Linked DNA regions of Homo sapiens. The protein of the gene in region 1 purifies or fractionates together with the protein of each later gene. This does not show direct contact. Each region holds a gene or a part of one and is shown on either strand. Other genes may lie near its edges. The genes, in order: MEGF10 and TFAP2B.

Region 1 (3,816 bases):
TTGATTTAGAAGTAGTAAGTCTTCTGTGAGTTGTGAGAAGTCTGCATTTTTACAAGTTCCCCAGGTGATTCTAATGCAAAACTCAAGTCACATGCTCATTTAGCAGCAGTGAATTTACCTTCTTTGTGATTGTCTGCTTGGTTTAATAGTGTATTTCTAAAATGCAAATCTGATCATGTTATTCCCTTGTTTAAAAATCTTTGGCAGCTCTCTGGATGGTGAATGTCAGTGTTACCTGGGTGCATGTTGAAAATATAGATTCCAGGGCTTCACCCCAGAAGTAAGGGCCAGTAATCTGCATTTTGAGATCTCCAGGTGAACCTGGTAAAGCTGACGTCAGATCACATTTGGAGAAACACTGGCTTACAGCATAAAGTCTCACCTCCTTACCGCTATACACAAGACCACCTTTGCAGCACTTCTCAGGGTTATTTTCTGCTTCTCTGGTCCCCAGCTCTCCAGCTCCCACTGATCTTGATCTTGTTACTATCTCAAGAATACGCTGTGCACTTTCACTCTTCCATGACCCAGCTGTATATGCTGTTCCTTCCTCTGAAAATGTCTTTGACCCTCTTTCCTGTCTAACCAACCACTTACCACCCATTCATCTTTTAAGACACTATTCAAATCCCTTTGAAGACTTTCCCTCTGAAGTTTTTCCCAATTATCTCATAAACTTAGCGATATCTCATGCGAGTTCCCATTCTTGTGGATAGATTTAATATAGCATAATCACATTGTATCAGCCATATTTATTATCTGAATGTTTATCCCTAACAGATTGGTGAGTTCATCATTCCTTATTGTAAGCTCTTATACAAGTGGCTGGCCCATAGTAGTTATGGAATAAATGCCTAGAGAATGTTGGAGAAAAGTAAATGGATGAATGATAGTCAACATTTTCTTAGCAGACAAAGTGGTTGGGACAGTATTGTATACATATGGAGGGTGTGGAAAAGCCAGTTGGGAATTTCCAGTTTGGCTAGACATAGCCTAGGAAGTTAATAACTTCAAGTGGGGCTGGGCATGGTGCCTCACGCCTGTAATCCCAGCACTTTGTGAGGCTGAGGTGGGAAGATCACTTGAGGCCAGGGATCCTAGACCAGCCTGGCCAAAATGGCGAAATCCTGTCTCTACTAAAAATACCAGAATTAGCCGTGAGTGGTAGCACACACCTGTAATCCCAACTACTTGGGAGGCTGAGGCACAAGAATCACTTGAACTTGGGAGGCAGAGGTTGCAGTGAGCTGAGATCGCGACACTGCACTCCAGCCTGGGTGACAGAGTGAGACTCTGTCTCAAATAATAATAATAATAATAATAATAATAATAATAATAAATAACTTGGAGTAGAAAAAGGACAAGACAGAATATCCTAAGAGGACTTATGAAACACCAAATGCCACTGAATTAATGTTACATGTTGAACATTATTGCAGGCAGTATAATGAAGAGCTGAGCTTATCCTTTAGGATGGTTTTGGTTTGGTTTTTGGAATGACGTGTCAGAGCACTGGAAAGGAAGTGCCAATGCCAATAAAAACCAACTTTGCTCTGTGCTTTTCCATTTATAAAACACTTCTGCTTCTGTTTTTGTATTTGATCAGAAACATGGTGACTGGTTCAATACTGTCTTTCCTTCTTTCCTGAAAGGACACATTCCTGAAAATAGGTCTGAAGATTGTATAAAAGCCTACATATTATAGGGGATTCTGGCCATAGAAAGCCAAATATATTATGAAATCTCTAATTATATCTTGCTATTTAGACACAGCATTCAGTGTATACTCCATTTTCTAATTTTTCTTTCTTTAAACTTTACACAATTTTGGTTATTTTCTCCTCATTTCAATAACAGTTGACCAGCTCAAGTTCAATAAATGTCTGATTCAGATGAAAAGATTTGCCATTTTTGGCATGTCTAATAACTTCTACCTTTGTCTTACTTAGTTTATGAGACAAACACTTCTCATAATTACTATTAGGCTTTTAATTTTCCCATTTCCCATTCACTTTTTTGTAATAATGAAAATATGCAGTAACATTTGAATAAGTGAATGAATAATTCTCTGGGTAATGACAAGGATGGTGATTCTGCAAAAATTGAACTATTGGCTTAGGGCAGCTGCACCATAAAATAAACAACATAAAAAGTTCATTCATTAGCTGGCATCTGAGTGTCATCATGACACAGGGCAGGGAGGTAGTAGCATCAATAGATGTAGTACAAATATCCACATTGATGGACTTCAAACGAAGCAATATTGAGGACTGCCTTTACTCTCAGTTTCTCAAGGGTGTGTACCCAGTATCTGGTTTTAATAATTAGTTTAGTTTTAAGAATTAATACAAGATTCACTGGGTTCTGTTGATTTGTCTTCTTTTAAAATTATGTTTCTGAAATGAACTTTTTCTAGCTTAGCATAAGCCTGTATCATTTTCTGCCAACCTTTGGAAGTCTTTTAACTGCTCTCCTAATCTCTTTATTCAGTCATTCATTCATTCTTCATATCTGAATGTCCTGAAATTTTTAATTTACCTTTTGTCTCTCTTTACCATTTTGCATTATTGTTCACCATGATCATTCTAACTCTTTTTAAATATAGTTATTGCAGAGGACTAATTTAGAGCATTTAGTAAAAGGATTTCTCATACTATGAGGGAAAAAGAAGGTACAAACCAATGTTATTTTACTTTATAGAACTTTATTTGTGGAATGGCAAGTCACTGTGTGGATGTTATTTGATAATGCAAACTCTGTGGCATTAGCCAATCTGGAAAGTGTGAATGTGATAATACATCCTGTTATTATGGTTGTTCATTTCTAGTGATTTCCTCTCTTATTTCATTTCTAGTGATTTATACTCCTAGATAAAGAAACTATGTAAAGCATTTAAGCACCTCAATTTCCTACTTAGAGGGCAATAAATTGTACCCCTTCCCACTTCTAAGACAAAGAAAACAGTATTTCAGTATGGAAAACCTCATCTTGATAGGTACATGTGCAGGATATTAGCATCTGTTAAAAACATCTTATCTTTGGGAACATCCTAGAGGATGACTAAGTGCCTTGTCATTAATGTCTCATCTGACCCAGATGAGCTGTACAGATTTGGCTGTTTCTCAACATAGCCACAGGTGGTGGTTCCCAAGATGGATCTTTTGAATACCTTCTGCTGAAGAATTTTGGCTTTCTTAAAAAATAATTTTTGATGGCAAATTGAAAACTAAAACACACAAATTTAACTTGTTCCTCACAGAGTGAAATAGAACTATGAAATTTTTGCTTGGTGGCACAGAAGACTAATCCTACAATCAAAACAAAAAAATTTAAATATCCACCCCTATTGACATCTTGAGAAAAGTACTTGAGTTTGGATGAAGAATTGATAAAAAATATGTGACTTGGTTCTTTAAAAAAGTAATAGGTTGGAGAGTTACTTTTTGTTCCACCAGTTTTTTTTGTTTTGTTTTGTTTTGTTTTTTGAAGTGGAGTTTCATTCTTGTTGCCCAGGCTGGAGTGCAATGGCGCAATCTCAACTCACTGCAACCTCCGCCTCTGGGGTTCAAGTGATCCTCCTGCCTCAGCATCCCGAGTAGCTGGGATTACAGGCATGTGTCAACATATCTGACTAATTTTTGTATTTTTAGTAGAGACGAGGTTTTGCCATATTGGCCAGGCTGGTCTCGAACTCCTGACCTCAAGTGATCTGCCTGCCTCAGCCTCTCAAAGTACTGGAATTACAGGCATGAGCCACTGCACCTGGCTGTTTATCAGATATTTATTAGCTGTGTAGGGCATAGGGGAAAATACCAT
Region 2 (4,605 bases), on another chromosome or scaffold:
AATGGAGAGAGAAAGGAAGGAACGAAAAGGGAAATGAAGGAAAGAAAAAAGGAAAACAAAAAGGAGGAAGAGGAGAAAAGGAAAGACGAAACATAAAAAATTCAACCGGAAATAAGGGGTTTATTTCTGAAGTTCCTTCTGAAGCACCTTCTTTGTGTTCTTTTCCTTTGACTTATCTTTAAAAATTAAATTAAAAATCTGCAGAATTGTTTATTCTGCAGTTCATGAAGCTTCTCCTTGGTTTTGATTGAATCGACGTCCAACAAGGTTGTCCGGAGCCCTGTACTCAAACAGCGTCCATCCCTGTTCGCGCAGAGCTGCACACAGCAGTCCTGGATTTAAAGACAATCACCCTTTGCAGATTCACTCTCACCAGGCTTAATAACTTCCACCCCAAATTGCCCCATCCCTCCTCGGTCCCTCCTGGCATTTCTTTTCTGTCCCAGGCGCAGAGATCCTCTTCTGGGCGTCTGTTCCGGCTATGAGAAGCTCTCCGCACCCTGAAAGGGAGTAGAAAAACAGAGGGGATGGGAAAGGGGGAACAGGGGAACAGATGAGTATTCATTTCATGATAAAATTCAGAATCCCTGCGCCTTAAATGGTGCCCATTTTCTAAGTCTGGTTAATATTGTTCTTGTTGCTGATGATGTTTTCCTTTTTAAAAACTATATGAATCATCTTATTAAGAAAAATTATACAAAAAAAAGAAGAAACTCCACATGCACTAAAATATTTTTCACTATCTCTTTGAAGACATTCTGCTTAAACCTTTTCAAAGATTCGGGTGGCCCTTTCTTGACTCTCCATGATTAAAACCACTTACAAGTCATACACAACAGATGCAAATATAAAATGTCCTTGGCCTCTGCAAAAAAGGCTCAAAATTAACCTTGTCTGAACGTGTGCGTACGTTGCTTCCAACATCTGAAAAAAACTTGATAAAATGGAGACTCCAGCCAAGAGGAATGGTGCATGGAATCCGTTGAAAATGCATACAAACAACACCTAAAATAACAAGCAGCACAAACTGAGGTGTATTTAAGTTTCCAAAGGTTTTAGGTAAAATGACCAGAAAATATTAGAAATGGTCATCAACGGTGGCTAGCTTTTTTGTTCTATGGTGACAGAGATAAAGTTAAAAAAAAAAAAGTTGTGTAGCCATCAACACAGAGATAGTCCTTAAAATCCCCCATATCCAGCCTTTCAAAATACTCTCTTCCGGAACATACATGAATAGGAGGGAGCTTTTGTGTTTAAAAATCTTGGTAAGTGTCCCCCTTTAAAATCTACATAGAAAATAGGGGACTGATGGCCCCTGGTTTCTCATTATGAATTGCAAAGACTTCAGTTAGTGGCTACAATGATGTGTCATTTTCGATATAGAAGTTATAAAATGTATATATTATATTAATCACCCTGAACAACTCTTTGTTAAATGCACATTTGGAGTCTGCAGACTGTGTGACCCAGAGGTGCTTATATAACTATATGTGGGTGTCTGGGTGTAAATACGGGTTTATGATTTTTATAGTATATATGTCTGTGGGTTGCATCTAACTCCTGTGTGTGCAATAATGTTTTTTCTCTTTGCTGAGGCTTACTTGTCCAGCCTATTGTTTGAGACAACAGATATAAGTTGCGATGGGAGAGGAGCGTCGGATTTGGTGTGTATCCCCCATTTCCAATTATAGATGGATCATTACAGACAGCGGAGTCCTGAGAAGCCAGACATCTGCTCCTCACATGAATGCACTCACCTCCTAGAGACCAGGCTGCCATCATGCTCTGGAAGCTTGTGGAGAATGTCAAGTACGAAGATATCTATGAGGTGAGTCGACACCCCCAGATGCACCTTAGAGCTTTGCAGATAGAGAATTTGAGCTTCTTGATACCCCAAATGATATATATTTTTAAGCTATTTACTCGTAGATTTCCGGTCGGTTTTCTCAGCTTTTTTTAACTTTTAGAAAAGCTGGCTAGGGAAGACTTCGCTGCTCTGAAAAGGGACTTTAAGGCTGAAATCTGACAACTTTAATTTAGGAATGTTTTTATTTATTTTATTTTTCTTTCCCTTTTCCTCGCCTCCCCCCACCCCACCCCACCCTTTTAAGCTCTGATGGGGAATGTGGTGCTACTGAATGTGGGCACGCTCTCAGAGAAAATCGAGATTCTGATAAAGTCAGGGGCTTTTCTCGTTTTAAGTGTGGAAGAGAATTGGGTTTTCAAGCCTCATTTGTAACAGACTCGGGCTTTTAATTTTTATTTTCAATAAAATTTCTGAAATTGATAACAAATGGTTCCAAGTAGAGGACAGAGAATTAGCGGGAAAGAAGTAGATGGCTGGAGATATGGATGGATAGAGCAAAATAGAAGTCGTAGCAGTTTATTAGTTTCTGTTTTCTTGTGTTTTGCTTCCTTGAGGGTCACTGCGTCCGAACAGAAATCGCAGCCGCCTCCTGTGTGGGCATCTTTCACGGAAATTTCTGCCCACGTTCAATGCGTACGGGTCTCTAGCACTGAGGCTAGCTCAACTCTTCGGGGCAGGAGAAGTTGCGCCCAGCCAGGAGGACGCCAGCCGCCTCCGGGGCCCGGACCGCGCTCGCCAAAGCCCTTTTCCGGCTCGGGCGAGGGCTGACGCGGCCAGACGGCTCCGCTACTCGCGGGCGAGGCGGACTAGGCGGACGAGGCGGCCGAGGCGGGCGAGGTGGGAGAGGCGGGCGAGGTGGGAGAGGCGGCCGAGGCGGGCGAGGCGCGGGGCGCGCGGCGGGCCAGGCTGGGGACCGGGAAGCCCGCGGAGCCTCGCTTTTAAGCGGAATGGTCTGGGACAGCCCCAGGTGGTTGCCAGGGGAAGGGAGGAAGGGAAGGTTCTGCTGAGACGTCGAGGTTGGAAATAAAAACTTCGGAAAGGCGAAGCGGATTTAGAAAAGGAGGGAAGTCGAGGCGGGCGAAGCGGGCCATGGAGATTGCTAAGAGGAAAAGTTGGAGAGAAAAGGAAGGAAGAGAAGCAGACTCCCGGGTGGCGGGCGCGGGCCGCTAGGTCAGACGAAAGGTGGAGGGATGCAGAGGCTCCCCAAAGAGCCGAGAAAGACACGCGACCCCTCCGGATCGGGACAGCTCCTGAAAGCCCGGCGCAGAGCCGCCTCGAAGATCCTAAGAGTGGGCGACTCACAGGCGCGGCCGGCAAGCTCCTGGGGGACTCGGGCTCGGACGAGCGCCCACAGGCAGCGCCTGGCGCCCACACCTCCTGCCCCCCCCCGAATCCTAATGTTGGGGTGTGTGTATGTGTGGAGGTATGTAGGAGAGAGGAGGAGGAGATAAGAGAGGAGAGGGAGAAAAGCAGGAGAGAGCGCGAGAGAGCAGAGAGGAGAGAGATTGGTCTTGTTGCTGAATGATGCTTGGGGTTTTCCTTTTCTCTTTGTGGTTGTGTATCGACTGTAACGAAGAGCCGCGCCTACGCGCCTGGTGGGGATTGTTTCGGTTCGGCCTCCTTTTCTTTCCTTAACAGGCGGGATAATGGTAAAGTCCAAGGCGCTAGAACTGTCCTAAAGAATATTAGCGCCCAAAGTGGGCATGACATTAGCAAGCACGGGGCCATGGTGAAAACAGCTCAAGCTATATGCATGCAGAGGCATTTCAGTGGGTTCTAAAAAGTAACCAGGGTAACATTCGTTCTTTACAGAAAGTAAAGTAGCTAAATGGAAAAGGAAGGAGGGAGAGAAGAAAGGAGGGAGGGAGAGAGGAAGAGGGAGGGGTGGAGTGGAAGGGAGGGAAGAGAGAAGAGAAAAGAGGGGAGGGAGAGAGAGAAAGAGAAATAAACAGGGAGAGAGAGGGAATATTACAGGTGGTCCTATCTGCCTAAATTTTCTGCTCAAAAAACAGAATCCGCAGCTCGGTGGAAGGAGCCTATTTAAGTCTGGACTAAGGTTGAACTTTAACAGAAATGGCAGTCAGGCCAGTTGAACGGGTTCCTGAAACATCCAAAAAGGTTTTCTGTTGCCCCTGGCTTTGCCTGGAAAGGATAAGTTTAGTGTATTTGAAGATTGATGGCGTATGTTTTAAATTGAGGTAAAAATCGCAAACTATGTGAGCACTAAACAGGAAAAGGCTGCACAGGAATGAAAAGCCTCCATCTCGCTTCTGTCCTTTAACAAATGAGCATAATCTTCCACATTTAGCAAAAGTCTGCAAAAGTCACTGTAAATAACCAGGCCCACCAATTTGCCTTTCTCTCGCCTCCAAATGATGAAGCAACCCTTTTTATTTTGTTTTTGTAATCCTCACACAAAGCACCCAAGGCGACCAAGTCCTCCGGATTAGGGAAGTCTCTCTCCAGGTAGGAGGACACCTCCATTCTATACAACCTCCCAGCACTGTTCTCCCTCACTGCCTTATCCAAAGGAGCAGGGGCTGCTTTACTCGTGTCCCCGGCACAGTTAATTGAAGTTCTGCCTCTTTCCTGCTAAACTTTTTCCCCAGTCTGCCTTTGCCAGCCCCCTCGTCTGATTACATCTAGTAATTCTCCACTGAATGAACGTCATTTACAATAGTAGGGGAGCTCTGCGCTCGCTGCTGCTTCACGCTCCATTTGTCCTCTATTCTCCCTTT

The links.
Region 2: the proteins of MEGF10 (region 1) and TFAP2B purify together in Homo sapiens (affinity purification with mass spectrometry, with the first as the bait; one study listed by BioGRID). This does not show direct contact.

The regions. Positions count from the first base shown.
Region 1 is NC_000005.10:127,293,499-127,297,314, forward strand, and holds part of MEGF10 (multiple epidermal growth factor-like domains protein 10 isoform a precursor), read left to right. Parts: intron 1-3,816. UniProt on the Homo sapiens protein: Membrane receptor involved in phagocytosis by macrophages and astrocytes of apoptotic cells. Receptor for C1q, an eat-me signal, that binds phosphatidylserine expressed on the surface of apoptotic cells. Cooperates with ABCA1 within the process of engulfment.
Region 2 is NC_000006.12:50,817,145-50,821,749, forward strand, and holds the start of TFAP2B (transcription factor AP-2-beta), read left to right. Parts: upstream 1-1,747; coding exon 1,748-1,828; exon of another isoform or gene 1,829-1,882; intron 1,883-4,287; coding exon of another isoform or gene 4,288-4,333; intron 4,334-4,605.